Homo sapiens: one gene and its partner. The protein of the gene in region 2 interacts with the protein of the main gene of each other region in a pairwise test. Each region holds a gene or a part of one and is shown on either strand. Other genes may lie near its edges.

Region 1 (4,023 bases), on a different chromosome or scaffold from region 2:
AACACAGCCAGAGTACCACAAGCCCTCAGCATGTGCCGGATGCACACAGGAATGGGAGGGCGGAGGAAGGCAAGAATCTACAAAATCGGAAGCACGTTGCTCTCTCCGTGTTTTGGGACTCAAGCAAACCTATAATGTGCATCCCCTTCGAGCAGGTCATAGAAAGGAGCCGGGGCAACAACCACTCAACTGACTCCAATTACACAGGAAAGGGACCCAGAGTCTCAGGCCCAGGCTTCTCAGGACTGCAAAGTGGCACTGGAGACAGGGACATTGACCTGCCACTTCTAAATATTTCAGTGGTAGTGTTATATCCGTTTGACTTTACCAAGAATATACATTACTTTTACACACACACACACAAACACAGATCTGCAAATCTGCATTCCTATTCCAGATATTCAGATGCATTGTAAAAATATATGCAAAGACAATATATATTTTTCTCTTGGTAATTGTGGAACACTGAATGTCAAACAGCATGTACTAGGTGGGAAGGACTGGGAGAATTATTCACAAGGATCAAATCTTACTTTGTGTATTTAACTGTAGATTAATTAATTGCTTTTATTTTAGTATTTGTTTTTTGAGACAGAGTCTTGCTCTGTCACCCAGGCTGGAGTGCAGTGGCGCGATCTCAGCTCACTGCAATCTCCGCCTCCTGTGTTCAAGTGATTCTCCTGCCTCAGCCTCCCGAGTAGCTGGGACTACAGGCACGCACCACTATGCCTGGCTAATTTTTTTTTTTTCTAGTAGAGATGGGGTATCACCAGGTTGGCCAGGCTGGTCTCGAACTCCTGACCTCAAGTGATCCACCTGCCTTGGCCTCCCAAAGTGCTGGGATTACAGGCGTGAGCCACTGTGCCTGGCCTAACTATAGATTAATTTAGAACCACTTATAGAATATGACCTGCAACTGTATCTAAGAGAAATACGATGCATAAAAAGTTTTAATATAAAAATAGCGTTTGACGTCTTATACATATCATAACAAATATATCTTGTCTTGTTGAACCTTCAGTTTTTACTTACTTTGGTAATGTTTAATCATGTCGCTGATACAGGGAAAAGTGATTCGTGGAGAGATGTAATAGCCCCCATTATCCAGACTTCTAATTTTGTAGTGCTTAATAACATCACCATGCACAGGGTCAAAGTCTCTGACAGACAGAGAGAAGCTTCCTATGGGGGGAAAAGTGTAAGTAAATGTTTATATCTCACAAATAAGATCTGCATTATACAACAACTGCAGTACACATTTTGTGATACAAATATGCAAAATACATATATTTATGAAATTTGTATAAAATGCATAATTTTAAAAGTCCTATAAAAATTCTACTTGACAAATGAAGCTGGCATTTTGTTTGCTGTGTAGCTTGCCAACATACCATTTTCTTTCTTCATGATAATTTTTTTAAAATTATTATTTAGCTACATTTAAATTTTTTTAAGTTACTTTGATTTTCTTTTTTTTTTTTTTGAAATAGGTTGTTGCTCTGTCACCCAGGCTAGAGTAGAGTGGCACAATCATAGCTAACTGCAGCCTCCACCTCTTGGGCTCAAACGATCTTTCTACCCCAACCTCTCAAGTAGCTGAGACTACGATCATGCACCACCACAGCTGGCTAATTTTTTAATTTCTTATAGAAACAGGCTCTTGCTATGTTGCCCAGGCTGGTATCAAACTGCTGGGTTCAAGTGATTCTCAGTCTCGGCCTCCCAAAGCATTGGGATTACAGGCCTGAGCCACCACGCCCAGCCTAATTTTCTTTGTCTTAAAACTTCAGGATTTATTCAAATAATAATGCAAAAGGCTCAGCAAACAAAGCCTGGTAAGAACTGGCCACAATCATGTGTGCTTTCTACAGTACTTTTCTTTTCTTTTCTCTTTTTTTTTTGAGACAGTGCCTCACTCTGTCACTCAGGCTAGTTAGAGTGCAGTGGCGTGATCACGGCTCACTGCAGCCTCCCTTCCCTGGGTTCAGGTGATCTTCCTACCTCAGCCTCCAGAGTAGCTGGGACTATAGGCATGTGCTGCCAGGCCTGGCTAAGTTTTGTATTTCTTGTAGAGATGGGGTCTTGCTGTGTTGCCCAGGCTGGTCTCTAACTGCTGGACTCAAGTGATCCTCTCGCCTCAGCCTCCCAAAGTGTTAGGATTACAGGTGTGAGCCACCACACTCAACTATATTACTTTTAGTAGCACAACTAATCACTGAGGTTTGTTATTTGTTATCAAACCATAAAACTTTTACTACCAGAGCATACTATATGCCCTTTTTTCCCCTTGAGTAGCTCTAGAATAGTTTCTAAAAATAATTTCCTAAATAGTGTTTTAAAAGAGGCTTTGAACAATTTCCTACCTTTTAATGTTTCACTTTCTCTAATAAGGAAAGCTCCAGCGCTATTTCCTGGTGCCAAAAGCTGCCTTTCTGCGTCCTTCCTGGTTATATCCTTGAAAAACCACCTGTGAAGACATTTCAACATTTCCTGCATATTATGTTCCACGGCAAGAAAAAGGTGAAGAATATTAACAAGAAATCCAATGTGGCAAATAAAGCCACCAAGATGACAACACATGAGGACTCACTCTTCTGTTTCTAAGGTGTTGAGTTTGGCCACATAGTTGCTGGGGATGAAGCCTTCTTTTTTTGTTAAAAGGGACTTTGCTTTCCACCATTCTCCATGCCTAGAATAGAAATACACATCAAAAAGAAGCTAAAAGATTACATACTCCATGCATGTATCAAAATATCACAGATATCCCATAAATATGTATTTATGTACAGATATTACATATCAATTAAAAAATTAAAAATAAAGAAAACATAGACTTACCACAGGACCCAGCAACTATACTCCTTGACATATACCCAAGAAAGATGAAACCATAATGTCCACACAAAAACTTGTACATGAATGTTCAAAGCATCCTTATTTGTAAAAGCAAAAAGTAGAAACAACCAAAATGCCTATCAACTGATGAATGGACAAAATCTGGAATATCCATCCAGTGGAGTATTACTCAGCAGTGAAAGGAATGGAGTGCTGAGAGATGCTACAACAGGGATGAACTTTGAAAACATTATGCTAAATAAAAGAAGGCAGTCAAAAAGGACCACATATTGTATGATTCCATTTATGTGAAATATCCAGAATAGGTCAGTCTTCAGAGATAAAAAGTAGATTCGTGGTTTCCTAGGGCTGCAGAGAATGGGAGAGTTGAGGTGACAGCTAAGGGGTGCAGGGTTTCCTTTTGGGGTATTTAAAATGTTCTAAAATGGATTGTGGTGATGATTGCACAATTCTGTGACTATACTAAAAAAATCACTGAATTGTACACTTTAAGTAGATGGATTGTATGGTATTGTGAATTCTCAATAAAGCTATTAAAAAGAGAGAGAGAGAGACAAAGAAAAGAAGCCAGGAGTGAGGGTTTTGAATGTTCACAACACAAAGAAAGAATAAATGTTCCAGATGATGGATATGCTAATTACGCTGACTTGATCCGTACACACTGCATACATGTATCAAAATATCGCTCTGTATCCCATGACTGCATATAATTATTCCATGTCAACTAAAAATAAAAGGAAAAAAGTGTTTATATCCAAGACTCAACAGCTACAATAGCAATTGTCTCAAGATGTTTGTTTAGGATGGTGAAGGCGGGTGGAGAACATCTCTGGAACCCCAGAATCCAGTGGGAAAATTCACTCTCCGTGATGGAATTAAAATATGTTTAGAGACAGAAGCAAAGGAAAACAGCCTTACAACTAAAGCACGCATCACTGCGATCAGGGGTGCACAAAGAAGAGTTGGTACAAATGGCTCCCATCTCACAGAAACAAAAGGTTTGTAACTTGCCCCAGGATAGCTAAGAAATGCTTTCAAATCCTTATAGAAATGAGAGTCAAGGGAATACTGGTCCACAGTTCATGCATTATAAACTCCTTTGTTCAAACATCTAGTTATCATAGAGATGGACACTATGAAAAGAAGAAAACCATAAGACAATTCCAA
Region 2 (3,986 bases):
GGCGTTGGCACATTCAGTGGGGAGCAGTCCAGAGTTCCCAAGAGGGACCTAGGGTGCAGTCTAGATGGAAGGCTGGGGATCTGCCTTGAGGTTGCATTTGCATTGAATGCACCTTACTTTACTTGGGGTATTTTGAAGATGCTGTGGAGATTATGAGGATCAAAGCCCTCCAAAGCTATCCTTGGTGCCAATATTGGTATCCAGGGGAGGGAATCTAGGCATCTGGCTGTCCTGCCCACTGTCCGTGCCAGGGGCTTTGCCTACAGTCCCAGGAGGGAGGAGGGAAAAGCAAAGAGAGCCTGGGAAAGGAGAGGGAAGCAGAGGCCCTGGAGCTGGGGGAAAGGAGGGTCATTGGTATTCTGGGCGCTGAGGAGTTCCTGGCTGGGCAGCACTCAAGGCCCACCCCCTGGCATCAGGCTGCACATTCAGCATCGACAGCCCTGGCCAGTAGGCCTTCTGGGCTCCCAGCAACGCCTGCATTTTGCACATTGGTTTGCATGACTGGTAATGTCCCTTCACAGGGCCACCCTCACCCCACCCCCACCCCAGGTCTAGAGATTTCCTGAATTGCTTTGCTTAACCCATGATTCTGCTGTCTAACCTCCATCCTTCCAGCTGCAAAGTCAGCTCCTCCTCTGTGCAGGGAGTGGGAGCACCACAGGAGCCAATGCCCAATCATAGCTGCCTCCAGGGAGGTAGCTACGGTCCTTTGCACCCCATTCTGCCTCCAGAAAAGAGTTTTCCATTTTTTTTATTAGAAAGGGTGTCTCTTTTCAGGAGCAAAGCCCCCATTCTCCCTTCATCCACTTCTTACAGTCTAATTGACTCCCTCCTCCTTCTTCTTTGAACAACGAGAAGACTCTCCAGTTGTCCAACTTCCACCCCTCCAGCTGCAACATCGTCATCCTTTAGCTCAGCGAACGCTGGGCGAACGCTCCCTCCCCGCCCCTCCTGCCCCTCCTCCCTACTCCAAGCCCTCGGCTTCTCATCCGCTGAACGATGTCCTACTTCGCTCGTCCTTGCTCTCGCCGCTGCTGCCGGAGCCGAAGCAGAGAAGGCAGCGGGTCCCGTGACCGTCCCGAGAGCCCCGCGCTCCCGACCAGGGGGCGGGGGCGGCCCCGGGGAGGGCGGGGCAGGGGCGGGGGGAAGAAAGGGGGTTTTGTGCTGCGCCGGGAGGGCCGGCGCCCTCTTCCGAATGTCCTGCGGCCCCAGCCTCTCCTCACGCTCGCGCAGTCTCCGCCGCAGTCTCAGCTGCAGCTGCAGGACTGAGCCGTGCACCCGGAGGAGACCCCCGGAGGAGGCGACAAACTTCGCAGTGCCGCGACCCAACCCCAGCCCTGGGTAGGTGAGTGCCTCCGCAGCCCCGCCGCCCGCCGTGGGGTCGGGGACAGGGAGAAGGGAGTGCCTGCCTGGTCTGCGCCCCCCGCCTGTCAGCCCTTGCCTCGAGGCTCTGGGGCACCCAACTCGTCGACTCCTGACACCGCAGCGGGGTAGGCTGCTGGACAGCCCCGAGCGCCTGCAGCTGCTGCTGCCATCTCTGATCTACATGCTTCCAGCTCTGCCAGTGGCAGCCCCCCTGCTGCTCGCAGTCTGATCAGCAACCCCTCGGGTCCTCGCATCTTCCCTGCTGCGCGCTCCTGTCCCAGCGCGGCCGCCGAGATTTCCGACCTTGTCCCAGGCAGGGCGGTAGCGTTCCGGATCAGTCCTTGCCTCCGTGCCCCCACGCACAGGCAGCTCCAGGAGCAGCGGCCAGCAACCCTTCTGGGGACACCTTACTGTAGTCCGGCAGGACAGCCGATCAGAGCCGCTCTAGGGGGTGGTCGGAGTGCCCATTTCGGCTGGAATCCCAACTCGGCTCCTTGCTCTGTGACCTTGGGGTAGTTAGTTGACTTCTCTGAACCTCGGGTTCCTCATCGGTGTAATGAGCAAAACATAAACAATCTTTTTCTCACAGTTGAGGTTATCCACAGGAAGCATTTAGGAGAACTGGCTCAGGTAGACATCAGTAACTATTAGCTGGAATTCGGTTACCACTATTGCATTCCTTCCTAGCACTGCCAGGGGCCTGGGAATTCCCTCTCCCAGGTATTTCCATATCCTGTCAGGTATTCCCCCACCTATTGGAATAGCTCTGCCTACATGGTTCTAATAGGACCAAGAGATTGGCGTCAAGTCCAAGGGGCACCATTATTATCTGCATTACTTAGATTGCAGATGATGACAGTAAGATCAGGGAACAGTGTTACCCTTAGACCCACCCACAGTATTACCAGTGCCTATGTTGCTATGGCTAACTTTGCTATTTATAACAGCATCATCCACATTTCAGATTCTATACGAGAGGGATCTGCAACTGCTCGGCTGGTGTCATTGCTAATAGTATTATTAGTTTTGCTTCCAATAAAAAGGACTATTTATATGATGATTGCAATTACTTCTACAGGCCCTAAGGCCCTGCTTATATTGTGTAGGCTCATGTTGCTCCTCATGAAGCCGTTAAGGGGGTAGCAGAGAGCTTCCCTCCTGCTATAGCCAAAGCTCTGGCTTCTTGTGCCTCCCTGCTGACCCTGCTGAGTGCTGGAGCTCAGTTCCTATGGGACAGACCTTGGCTGCCGGCTGATGGGCATTCAGCATGGAGGTGGTGGGTGTTGTTAGATGTGTGTACACACGTGCATGCCTACACACACACACACACACACACACACAGAGAGAGAGAGAGAGAGAGAGAGAGAGAGAGACCTGGTCTTAACTCTCTGGGTTGGGTCTATGAAGACTGTGAGGGAGATGGACATCCCGGGTCAGACAGAAATGATGTGACAAGAGGAAAGTTTCCTGAACAGCTCAAGAAATTCAAAACAAGGGCAGAGATACAGACGCTGGAGCTGAAACAGAGAGGGGGATGTTGTGGCGTCAAGGGAACGGACCGCATGACTGCTGAGCTCTCAGGGTTAGAGTTGGAGAGGTGTGGCCTGCTCTGGAGGAAGAGAAGAGGAAGTGGAGATGAGTGGTGTGTGGGATAGAGAAGGCCACAGAACCCTGGACCCCTGGGTTCTGAGGCTGGTACCGGATGTGGGGAAGTCTGAGTTTCCTCAGGGCTCCTAGCTGCAATTGGGAGGCTGAGGCCCGAGACTGGAGAGACAGAGCTCTCTCAGAACTGCACGGGGCTACCCTCTTGGCCTCACTGGTCAGTGACTCCCATTTTTGGGGTCAAGGGTAGGTTGCCCTCCATGTTCCAGAGCAGTTAGGTCCTCATTGGCCTTAGGCCCTCTTCCCTCACTCTCCCACTGTCAGACAGAGGTGAAAGGGTGGTCCAGGGTGTTGGCCCCAAAATGACTCCAACTATATGGGTCTCTGGGCTGCCCGTCAGAGAGATGGGAGCCAGGTCTGTGAGCAGCTCCAGCTCCAGCCCAGAGAGAAGGGAGGGAGGGCACCAGAAGGGGGCCAGGCCCAGGCCCTGGCACAGCTCAGATGCATGGCAAACAGTCTTCCCAGCACCCGGTGGGCACTGGCTGCTCCTGCCCAATGGTCCCCACTCCAGCCCCAGAACAGTCCTCCCAAGCACCCCAATGCCTGGAGCTGGTCTCCGCACCTCTAATCTGGCCCCATCAAGAACCTCCTCCCTCTGAAAGGTCAGAGAGAGGCCCTAAGCATCTGGTTGTGCCACTCCTCTCCCAACTCTGACCCTAGGGAATGATATCCAGACACAGTGGGGGAGATGGGGGTTATGATGGCAGGGAGGTGGGAGGATCTGGGAAAAGTAGGAAATTTCCCATCATCTCAGGCTTAGGAAAGTGCAGGGACAGGTATGAAGGCAGATGCTGAGAGGGCAGGGAAGATGGGGGATAAACAGTGGGCCTGGAATGGGAGTGCACAGCCAGTGGAATAAACCTGATCTCTAGGAAGTCCTGCCTGTAGTCTAACCTTCAATTCTCTTGCTGCATCATTGGCCTATTCCATGGCATACCTGGATCTCCATGCTCTTCTAA

Evidence for each region.
Region 1: the proteins of BCAN (region 2) and LYN interact in binary tests that used the Homo sapiens proteins (3 or more experiments, as listed by UniProt).

Annotation. Positions count from the first base shown.
Region 1 is NC_000008.11:55,949,125-55,953,147, reverse strand, and holds part of LYN (tyrosine-protein kinase Lyn), read right to left. Parts: intron 2,690-4,023; coding exon 2,591-2,689; intron 2,468-2,590; coding exon 2,364-2,467; intron 1,183-2,363; coding exon 1,033-1,182; intron 1-1,032. UniProt on the Homo sapiens protein: Non-receptor tyrosine-protein kinase that transmits signals from cell surface receptors and plays an important role in the regulation of innate and adaptive immune responses, hematopoiesis, responses to growth factors and cytokines, integrin signaling, but also responses to DNA damage and genotoxic agents.
Region 2 is NC_000001.11:156,640,931-156,644,916, forward strand, and holds the start of BCAN (brevican core protein isoform 1 precursor), read left to right. Parts: upstream 1-1,186; 5' UTR 1,187-1,345; intron 1,346-1,452; exon of another isoform or gene 1,453-3,986. UniProt on the Homo sapiens protein: May play a role in the terminally differentiating and the adult nervous system during postnatal development. Could stabilize interactions between hyaluronan (HA) and brain proteoglycans.